2 separate regions of the Homo sapiens genome follow, and region 2 is linked to region 1. Evidence: fine-mapped expression QTL. A gene starts in region 1. The other region holds a variant in brackets. All regions are shown on one strand. Distances are between the middles of the regions.

The links. PIP is the estimated chance that this variant, and not a neighbour inherited with it, causes the effect.
Region 2: its variant is the best candidate, but not a certain one, in a credible set for the expression of ICA1 in whole blood (INTERVAL, PIP 0.60).

What each region holds. Positions count from the first base shown.
Region 1 is chr7:8,260,920-8,263,419 of GRCh38, forward strand. It overlaps ICA1 (islet cell autoantigen 1), which reads right to left and starts at 1,248. Exons shown (of 14, transcript NM_001136020.3): 1 at 1,175-1,248. It overlaps ICA1-AS1 (ICA1 antisense RNA 1), which reads left to right and starts at 1,306. Exons shown (of 6, transcript NR_125740.1): 1 at 1,306-1,500; 2 at 1,661-1,907.
Region 2 is chr7:8,236,407-8,238,906 of GRCh38, forward strand. The region is part of intron 1 of ICA1 (islet cell autoantigen 1); the gene reads right to left. Among named protein-coding and RNA genes, the nearest start is that of ICA1, 25 kb to the right of the region's middle. The variant C/T (reference allele first, on the strand shown) is at 1,496.

The DNA.
Region 1 (2,500 bases):
ATTTGAGATTTTCCGAAGAGACTTCACTGAAACGTATGGACAAAAACATGTTTGCGATGAGTCATATTTTATAGGACCTTAATGGCCAATAAATGCCTTATGTGTCTTTCTTCCTACATTCAGTATCACTCCCAAGCAAGCTGGTGACATATTTTCCAGGCCTTGATAATTTTTATACCGTTACCAGATCTCGGTTACTAAGATTCATGAACAAAACCCTTTCTTGCGCTAATTTTTTAATGCCATCTAAATGAAGAGAACGCGATTCTTTCCAAACTAACTCTCCCCAACCAGGCAGTTAATGCCCTTCGCCAGAATAAGGGCGCGATACTTTTAAGACCCCAAAGAGAAGCTCAGGTGCTTTGGGGGTACTACAAGTAAAAAGACAGTGGGAAAGGTTCCTGGAGAGCCGCTTTGGGGGAAAGGCAGACATAACAACAGGATATGTTCGTTTCTAGAGGAAGCAGGAGCTGCAATAGCCCCGGAGCAGGAAAGGCGGAGTCAGCAGCGCCCAAAGGAAACGGGCGCGCCAGGGTTTGCTGGAACCGGGGTTGCTTAGGGGTTCTCGCCCCGTCTAGTCCGAGACTGCTGAGCACCTCGCCCCCGGGGGACCAAGCTCAGGCCTCCTGGCACTAGTGGTTATAAAGAGGTACCCATATGCTCTCTGCCGCCCCTGCCAAAAAAAGGGCCACGGAGGGGAAGAGAAAAAGCACACACCAGGCGCCGCGGCAGGTGAACTTGTCAACAAGTCAACCCTGGACGCAAGTCCCTGCCCACCAGGGAGCTCGGGGTCCTGGGGCCGGAGCCGCCGGGAAGGCGAGGCGCGCGGTGGGTGGGTGGGGTGGGCTGGCATGGGTGCCGGTGCTCCCAGCGCTGGGGCCGGAGCGCGGAACGCTTCCCTACCGCTCCCCCGGGGCTGACGCACGCTCTCACGGCGCGCGCATCCTCCAGACCTTCCCAGGCCGGAGGGAGGAGGGGAGGGGAAGGGGCTGATGCGGTTCCCGCACCGGGATCCGGGACCCGAGGAGGCGACTCGCCTATCACGCGCCGCCCGCGGAGGGCAGAGAAGGCAGCTCCTACCAGGCGTCCCCGACCGTCCCGGCTGCCGGGCGTCTCCTGCTGCTTCCTGCAGCCCGCCCGGCGCGCCCCCGCCCCGACCCCGGAGGGCAGGTACCTCGGAGCCCCGGCCCCCAGGAGCCTCCCGGCCGCGGTCGGAGCGTCCCTCCGGATCACTCATCCGACGTCAGCGTCAGCCGAAGGCGAGGGAAAGGGGCGGGGGGAGCGCAGGAACCGGCCCTTCCTGCGGCGGCCGCCACCAGCCGGAATAGCAACCGGCGGAGCCCGTGCGCACCGCAGCGCAGCGCAGCGGCCGGGGGGTGCGGGCGCCCTCGCCGCCCGGCTACCTACCGCCGCCTGGGCGCCGCCGCTGCCTCCCTTCCCCGCTTCTACCCTCCAGCAGACGCCCGCCGGAGCGACCCCTCCCAGGGTGACCGGGGGAAGGTGGGTGGCGTTGACCTCACCTTGCTTGGGGAGGGTCGGGGACTCGGGGAGTGAGTTTCTCTCTCTCTACTCCCCGGGGTCTCTCCTCGACCCCCATCTCCTGGGGTATCCCCCGCTCGGATCCGCCGCCCAGAGTGACCCCGCCCCTGCTCTCCGGCAGGTGTTCCACGTGGCCATAGCGTTTGCGTCACAATGACCTGGCGGACAGGTGGGAGCCACAGCGTACACCCCAGGGTTCCCTCTGTGCTGTGCGTAGTGCCTACTGCTTGCTTCCAGGTTAAATTTCTGTAGCTTTAGAGGACAGGAGACTTCATGACTTCACTGCCAAGAAAAGTTACAGAGGCCTGCTGTACCTGGAAATCAAGTTTGAGCTTCGAGAATAAAGGTCATGTTTTAAAAACAGCTGTGTATGTATAGGTATATGTTTTTCATTTCCATATATTTCTGTATCTTTTATTTTTAAGTTATTGCCATTTGTAGCAGTTTCATCTTCTCTTATCCTTTGTCACCAGGAAAGAACCAAACCATTGTTTCTAGAGACCCTGCAGTATACAGATCACAGGAAGAAAAAGTGTTGGCATAGCTGCTTCCTAATATTATCTATGTGGAAATGAAACCTCAATGTAGTATGACTTCATCCCTAGTTATGTTATACATTTATAAATAAGTTCATTCAGTCGTCGCTGAAACAATTTAAAAGGGCCGAATGATAGTTATTGAGTAATGATGCTGACGAATCAGAAATCCTGCGCTAACATGGATGGAGTGCTAGCTCTATGTCCGGCACATGCTGTATGCTTTATATTTAATCCTTACAGCAACCCAATACTGTAGATAAAATCATTATCCCGATTTCACAGATGAAGACACTGCCCAGAGTGCCATAAAGAGATTATTGAGCAGGGATTTGAATCTGAACCAGGAGACTTAGCTTAATCTCAAGATAGCATGGTGTCTTGCCAGAATGGATGGAGAAAAAGTATAGAATATGTTGACATTT
Region 2 (2,500 bases), 25 kb before region 1:
GGGATGTGATGTGAGAGAGATATACAGCAGCTTCAAGTGCACACATAGTGTTCTCTTTGTGAAGCTAGGTGGTGAATATATTGCATCTGTATGCCTCCTTACAGATTTGAAATATTTTATAATCAACATTTTTAAAGAAACAAACCAGCACATTGCAAAAATAGAAACAAAAATAGAACAAAATTTTAAAACCCCAAATAAAAACCAAAAAAGGGTTGATATGCTTGAATAAGATAGCAAGAAGGGCACAAAGGTGGAAAATAGGTATCTACCAGCCTAGCCTTGTATATTTATCTCGTTAGTAAATACTGGAGTCAATGTCTCTGCCCTTACTCCATTTGCTCCACTCATGGAAGCTAGCCCACCCCAGGGCCCACCAGCCCAGCCACATTAGCCCACTTGCCAGCAGTTACTGGAAAGAACAGAAAGCTCACTACTCAAAGGAATGGTCACTGGCCAGAGGCAAAACCTCTAGCTGCCAGAGTGAGTGCTCACAGCATATGAATGCCCAGACTGCTTCACAAAATCAATCCAATCATTCTCCTTTGGTCTCAGAAAGGATCCTGGCAACCAGTACTCCTAAAGTGATTAAAGCTTTCCTAGGCTATTTAAAAACATTTCAAGGGGACAAAATTACGATGTGCAAATCCCACGCTTCAGGTATGCAGACAAGAGAGAGGAAGAAGAGAATTTCCAGAGTGTCAGATGCCTCTGATATGACAGCATCCTGCAGTGAACATCTCTCTTCCTTGTGGAGAGCATCCAAATATCTGGACGAGCTGCTTTTGGGAATGACATTCAGGGTAAGTAAGTAAGCTCTGCCCTCCACTCAGTGCATCATGGAGAGGCTACCAACACCCAGTCCTCTCACCACCCAGACAGCTTCACTGTAAGTACACATTTACTTTAGTTAGCTTGAAATTTCCAACAAATTTTTTCATAAAAAGAGGGTGTTCAAAGGAAATGGAATTATCATATTCTTCTCTTGAGTTCAATGTCACCATGAACTATTAGGATAGTTGGTACTTTTTGATTAATATTTTTATTATGGTAAAAAAGTTTATTCTTTTAATTTAAAAGTGTACAGTATAGTAGTGCTAACAATATACACTTTGTTGTACAACAGATCTCTAGAACTTTTTCATCTTGCATGATGGAAATTCTACACCCATTGAACAACTCCCCATTTTCCCCTCCCACAGCCCCCAGCAACCACTATTCTAGTTTCTGATTCTATGAATTTGACTACTTTAGATACCTCATAAAAATGCAAACACTCAGTATTTGTGTTCTTGTGATTGGCTTATTTCACTTAGCATAATGCATTTAAGGTTCATCTGTGTTGTAGTATATGACAGGACTTCCTTTTTAAGGCTGAATGATATTGCATTGTATATGCAATGTTGAAGACAGACACACACACACACACACACACACACACACACACCATTTTCTTTAACCATTCATGTGTCAATGGATATTTAGGTTGCTTTCA[C/T]ATCTTGGCTATTGGGAATAATGCTGCAATAAACACAGTATACAGTGTCAAATTCATTGACAGGTTCTTGGAAGCTGCAACTATAGGCAAAGTGATATACACAGGTCCAGAATAACACTGTTTCATAATAATATTGATAAGAAAAAAATGGCTTATGTCGTTTTGCCTAAAGTTGCAGTTTCCAAGAACTATCAATGACATTAAATGAGGTCTTAATGTATCTCTCTGAGATCCTGTATTCAATTCTTTTGCACAAATACACAGAATTTGGACTGCTGGATTATACAGTTCTCTACTTAATTTTTTGAGGAAACTGCCTATTGTTTTCCACAGCAGCTGCACCATTTCAAGCCCACTGATGGTATGCAAGGGTCCCACTTTCTCCACATCCTTGTTAATGTTTGTTTCCATTTTTAAAAATAATAGCCATCCGAAGCATTGTGAGGTGATATCTCATGGTTTTGGTTTACAGTTCTCTGATTAGTGATGTTGTGCATCTTTTCATATTTTTTTGCCATTTGTATATTTTCTTTGGAGAAATGTCTATGCAGGTCTTTTGCCCATTTTTAAATTGGGTCATTTTGTTATTGACCCAACTTAATTTGCAGGAGTTATTGCAGGAGTTCTCTATATATTCCAGATATTGATCCCTTATCCAATATATGGTTTGCAAATATTTTCTCATATTCTGTAGGTTAGCTTTTCACTCTGTTGACTATTTCCTTTACTATGACTTTTTAATTAATTTTTGCTTATTAAAATGCCTTTTAATTTAAATCCTTCATAGTGTAAGTTCTTATAGTATGTGTTATTTATAGTTATAGTTAACAAAAATTGCTGAGCAAATTGCCCCTTCTACCTAGATTTCCAGGCTATTCCCAGATCATGATACCATACGGCAGTGTTCCTCAAGGTATTGTTTAACAGCCACTTGCATTGAAATCTTCCGGGGATACTAATATACAGAATCCTAGACCCCACTCCTTTCCTAGTGAAATAGCATCT